2 separate regions of the Homo sapiens genome follow, and region 1 is linked to region 2. Evidence: fine-mapped expression QTL. A gene starts in region 2. The other region holds a variant in brackets. All regions are shown on one strand. Distances are between the middles of the regions.

Region 1 (2,905 bases), 48 kb after region 2:
ACTGCTCAGGGTCACACGGGTGCGGGAGACCCCATCTGTGGGGGCTCCTTCTGCCCAGGACTCACGAGTGGGCCAGGCTTGGTGGGTTTCCCCCTTCTTTCCCTTGTCGGGGGTGCAGGCCTGTCCTGGCCCTCAGCAGAGGCCTCCTTCCCAGCCCCTAGCAGCACCTGCATGATTAGGGCATCTCATTGTCTACCTGGAGACCCAACTACTTACTAGCTCATACCAGTGGGGCCCTTGGAGCAGCGCCTCTGTGTGGGGAAGCCACATGACCACCTGGTCACAGGTGCCAGGAGGAAAAGCAAGCCACCTTCAGGGATACAGCCTGGGCTGGGAAGGCCTTGGACACTGACCATGTGGAGCCCAGGCACAGAGCAGACAGGTTGGATGCTTCCAGAAAGGGAGGCCGCTCTCCCACTCTCTCAGCTGGTCCAGTGGTTGTGTGTGTGTGTGGTTGTGTGTGTGTGTGTGTGTTTAAACAGTTTTATGGAAATATAATTCACATATAAAATTTATCCACAGAAGGGGGACAGTTCAGTGGCTTTTAGTACATTCACAGTCGTGCAAGCAGAGCCACAGTCAACCTTAGAACATTCCATCACCCCAGAGAGAAACCTCACACCCCTCAGCTGTTACCCACCCGCAGCCCCCAGGCTTGGTGACCACTACTCTGTCCCTGGGTTGCCCATTCTGGTCCAGTGGTTTTCAACCTTTTAGGGGCTGGGAACAGACCCCTTTGTGAACCTTAAAGACTACGGGCCCTCTTTTTTGAGACAGAGTCACTCTGTCGCCTAGGCTGGAGTGCGGTGGCGCGATCTCGGCTCACTGCAACCTCCGCCTCCTGGGTTCAAGCAATTCTCTGCCTCAGCCTCCCGAGTAGCTGGGACTACAGGCACGCCCAAGCATGCCTGGCTAATTTTGTATTTTTAGTAGAAACGGGGTTTCACCACGTTGCCCAGGCTGGTCTTGAACTCCTGTGCTCAAGTGATTCACCCACTTCGGCCTCCCAAAGTGCTGGGATTATAGGCGTGGGCCACCGTGCCCAGCCACTACAGGCCCTCTTTGCAGAACATCTCATTTTAGGGTGCCTCCAAGCCCCCCAGGGCCCATAAGGAGTGCTGAGGAAGGCTGGGGGCATCCCAGTGGAGGGGTCAGCTAGGCAGAGGTCAGAGGACGGCTGGGGTTGGGGTGGAGCAAATCAGAGGGTGGGGGGAGACACACACACACACACACACACACACACACTCCAATGCCCACCATCAGGAGAATAGCAACTGGCCAGTTTTATGTTGTGTGCATTTGACCACAATGAAGAAAAAATAGACCAGG[C/T]GCGGTGGCTCACGCCTGTAATCCCAGCACTTTGGGAGGCCGAGACAGGCAGATCACCTGAGATTAGGAGTTCAAGACCAGCCTGGTCAACATGGTGAAACCCCATCTCTACAAAAATGCAAAAATTAGCCGGGCATGATGGTGGGTGCCTGTAATCCCAGCTACTCGGGAGGCTGAGGCAGGATAATTACTTGAACCTGGGAGGCGGCGGTTGCAGTGAGTCAAGATAGCGTGCCACTGCACTCCAGCCTGGGTGACAGAGCAAGACTCCATGTCAAAAAAATAAATAAAAATGTAATAAATTAATTACATCCTTTTTTTCTTTTTTTTTTGAGACGAAGTCTCACTGTTGTCCCCCAGGCTGGAGTGCAATCGTGCAGTCTCGGCTCACTGCAACCTCCGCCTCCGGGTTCAACCGCTTCTCTTGCCTCAGCCCCCAGAGTAGCTGGAATTACAGGTGTTTGCCACCACGCCCGGCTGATTTTTGTGTTTTTAGTAGAGATGGGGTTTCAACATGTTGGCCAGGCTGGTCTCAAACTCCGGACCTCAGGTGATCTGCCTGCCTCGGCCTCCCAAAGTGCTGGGATTACAGGCGTGAGCCACTGCGTCCAGCCCTTTTTTCTTTTTTTTTTAAATTTCATTTCTTTTTTCTATCCCCCAAATTTCCTTTTTTTTTTTTAAGCTCTTATAGACAGGGTCTCACCATGTTGCCTAGGCTGGAGTGCAGTGGCACGATCATAGCTCACTGCAACTTTGAACCCCTAGGCTCAAGCAATCCTCCTGCCTTGGCCTCCTGTGTAGCTGGGATTACAGGTGCACGCCACCATACCTGGCTAATTTTTTTTTTTTTTTTTTTTTTTTTGAGACGGAGTCTCGCTCTATTGCCTAGGCTGAGTGCAGTGGCGCAATCTCGGCTCACCGCAAGCTCCGCCTCCTGGGTTCACGCCATTCTCCTGCTTCAGCCTCCCGAGTAGCTGGGACTACAGGCGCCCGCCACCACGCCCGGCTAATTTCTGTATTTTTAGTTGAGACGGGGTTTCACCTTGTTAGCCAGGATGGTCTCGATCTCCTGACCTCGTAATCTGCCCACCTTGGCTTCCCAAAGTGCTGGGATTACACGCGTGAGCCACTGCGCCCGGCCAACCTGGCTAATTTTTTAATTTTTCTGTGAAGGGGTTTCACTATGTTGCCCAGGCTGGTCTTGAACTCCTGGGCTCAAGCTATCCTCCTGCCTCAGCCCCCGCCTCCCCAAAATGCTGGGATTACAGGGATGAGCCACTGTGCCCGGCCCTCCTTTTACTTTTTTAATATGGCTACTAAAAATGAAAAATTCCACACGTGGCCTGCATCATCTTCCTGGTGGACAGTGCTGCCTGAGAGTTCCCTTTTTGCGCTTCCTAGTGAGCTAGTGATCGACTTTACACCTAGTCCCCTTGTGATGGGAAACCCTCTGTTGAAACAGCAGGGTCCTCGCCTCACTGGACCGGGACTCAGACCAGGTGGAAATGATGATTTCATACTCATGGCCAAGCTGCCTCTCACCCCAGATGGAGGAAGTGAAAGTTCCAGCCTTTGC
Region 2 (2,905 bases):
TTATTTTTTTCCAGCCTAATGGTTAGATCTAAGCTTTCAGCAACTGCTGGAGTCAAAACCAGTCACAGTAGCCCAAAACTGTCCCTGTCACACCCCCATGGGGATGTGCTTTCTAGGGCCTGGCCCCGTGCTGCTTTCTAGGGCCTGGCCTCCTGCCTAGCAAAGCAGTCAGGATAAATGTGTGCACTGTCAGAACCTCCCTTGCAGAGAGGGACAAGTTCCCGGCCCCTCCCTTTGCAATGAGATGCTGCTGTGGCTGTTTACGACAAAGCCAGAGGGCAGGGCCCGCTTACAGAGCTGAGATTACAGCTAACCCACCCCAGACCCTACTAGCTGGGACACCGGGACATCTATCAGGTAGGGGTCCCCAGCTAGCTCCAGAAGGGGAAGCTAACACAAGGGGTCTTCCTCCAGCCTCCCCGAGGAGGGGTGGCATCAGAATTGGCTAGAAGCCCGAATTTAAGAAGGCTGCGCTTCCAGCGGTTTGGAAAGCTAAAACTGAGTTAATCGCCTGGGGGCAATCCCTCCAGCTCTCCAGGCTTGAGCTTAGGGAAGCTGAGCATTTGTCCCCTGGAATCAGGAGGGGAAGCCTGGGAGTCTCACGTGCGGGTTGGAGAAGCTGGTGCCCGCTGTCTGAGTTCCAGACGAAGTTGAGCAATCGGAACCTAGGCTCCCAGTGGGAATCCCAGGAACCTCGCCGCCCCAGAGGGAGAAGCTGGCGGCCCGGCGCGATCCCTGCCTGAGTTTGGGAACCCAGCAGAGCCTGGGTTCAGGAGGAAGAATTGGAGAGGCTGGTGCCCACCCGCCGCCCAAGTTCTAGGAGCCGTCTGCCCTTTTCTCCACCGTGAAAAGTCAGCGCTGGAGCTTAGAAAAAAAGAGACTAGGAGCTCCGCCGCCCCAGGTGGGAGACACAGCCCGCCCGCCTGAGTTCGGGGCCCCACGGTGCCGCCCGCGCCCTCACCTGAGCCGCGCGGACCCGCCGGGGCTGTCATGCTGGGGCGGGAGCGCGGGACGCAGGCGGGTACGGCGGGGCAGCCTGGGTCCGATCGCCCGCCGCTGTCACTGCGACCTCGCTCCCTCGCGGCGCGGCTTCAAACCCTCCGGCATCAGCTGATCTGTGCCTCGGTCACGTGACCCGGTAGCCCAGAGCCCCTCACGTGACCGCCTCTGGTCCCGCCCCCTGCGCCACGACAACCCCTGCCGGAACAGCGCGCATGCGTGCCTCTGCCGGCGCCCTCTGGGTCGAAGGCAGTCGCTAGGTCCTAGCGCCGACGCGCTCTGGGTGGCGGGGGATGGGCTGACTCTGAGTTTGGCAACGACGAGCTCTGCCCTGGCTCCCGGCCATGCCCCGAATCCGGTGCCAGGCTTGTGACTTCCATGTCCAGAGCTTGACCCCTTATCCTCCTTGGTGCCTGGTGATGACCCTGCCTACTATCTCAACGCTGTCTTCCTCTTTCTCCCAGAAACTCCTTTTACCCTTCTCCTGCGCATCTTCAGCAAACACGATTTCCTAATTATGTATCAAATAGAACCACTTATCCCCACCCCATGGCCCCCAGCCCAGAGTCTTCCAACATTCCTGGCCTGGATCTTTGCAGCAACCTCCTCCCCGATCTCAGCCTCCCTCCACTCCACTCTCTACCCAGCAGCCACAAGCATCTTCAAAGAATAATTCCTATCCTTCCTGCGAGAACCTGCCCTCGGCTTCCCATTGCTCTGTAATGACAGGCAGAGTCCCCACTCTCGTCTATCAGGGCCCTCTGATCTGGCTCCTACCTCCATCCAAAGCTCATCTTTCTATAGCCCCAGAGCCTTTGCATACTTTTGCCCTGGAGCGTAATGGTTAAGAATTTGGACCCTGGAGGGCAATTGGGATTTAAATCTAGGCACTGACAATGCCACTTCTACATCTTCCAGAGTCCCTTCAACTCCAAGCTGAGCGCAGTGGGCGGTGGCATGCACCGGCAATCCCAGCTACTCGGGAGGCTAAGGTGGGAGGATCGCTTGAGCCCAGGAGGTCGAGGCTGCAGTGAGCTATGATCACACCACTGCACTCCAGCCTGGGCAACAGAGCAAGACTGTCTAAAAAAAAAAAAAAAAATGTGCCTCAATTTTCTCATTTGCAAAATGGGGATATTCAAAGTCATCTACCTACTGGGGCTGTTGAGAGGATTAAATGAGAGAATGCAAAAACTATCGCATAAGGCTGGGCAAACAGTACTGATTATTAAATTAGTGATTATTGGGATTACAAAATCCTTCATTGAGAAAGCTGCCTGCCATTTATATCAGAAGTCTTGTTATGCTTCTCCTAGAATGTACTATACCCCGTAATTATTTTTTAAGTATTCTGAATTTAGTATCTATGAGCTCCATGCAGGTCGAGGCCATATTTATCTTGTTCCCTGCTGAGACCCCAGCAATCCAGAGATGTTTGTTGATTGCATAAATGAGCAACTTTTTTTGTCCACTTGTATACCTACTGTATGGGCTTTGAAGAGCAAGGGGTAAGTGAGAGGAACAGAGAGTGGTGACTAGTGGGATGGACCAGGATGAGACACTGTGGGTTAAGCTGGAAAGTCTAGCTGGTGGGCCCAAGAAGGAAGCCAGGACACTGGAGCTCCAGATTGTGGCTGGCCCTGGCCACAATGTCCCATCTCCGGAGCAAGGGGCTGTGCTCAGAAAGAAAGCACAAAAGGCAAGCCACGACACAGAGCCCGGAGGCAGTGGGAGGATTTTACTGACTGCACAACACACAACTTCCCCAGGCCCCCGAGGATGCCGGCGTCTCCTTCAGCCATCAGGCCCCAGCAGTGCCCCTTGCTCCTGTACCCACTCTGGACTCTCGCCGGTAGGGAGGGCTGGGCTGACAGTGCCACGAGTGGGAGAACAGGGGTCAGGGCAG

What was found.
Region 1: its variant is fine-mapped to the expression of MCOLN1 in spleen (GTEx, PIP 0.99).

What each region holds. Positions count from the first base shown.
Region 1 is chr19:7,473,095-7,475,999 of GRCh38, reverse strand. It overlaps a transcript of ARHGEF18 not described here. Among named protein-coding and RNA genes, the nearest start is that of PEX11G, 14 kb to the left of the region's middle. RefSeq lists a silencer at 2,796-2,845. The variant C/T (reference allele first, on the strand shown) is at 1,330.
Region 2 is chr19:7,520,838-7,523,742 of GRCh38, reverse strand. It overlaps MCOLN1 (mucolipin TRP cation channel 1), which reads right to left and starts at 1,119. Exons shown (of 14, transcript NM_020533.3): 1 at 962-1,119. The coding sequence starts at 992. It overlaps LOC105372261 (a long non-coding RNA gene), which reads left to right. Exons shown (of 3, transcript XR_936294.3): 2 at 581-901. ZNF358 (zinc finger protein 358) reads right to left here. Exons shown (of 2, transcript NM_018083.5): 2 at 2,718-2,905. The coding sequence ends at 2,794. RefSeq lists a silencer at 956-1,085.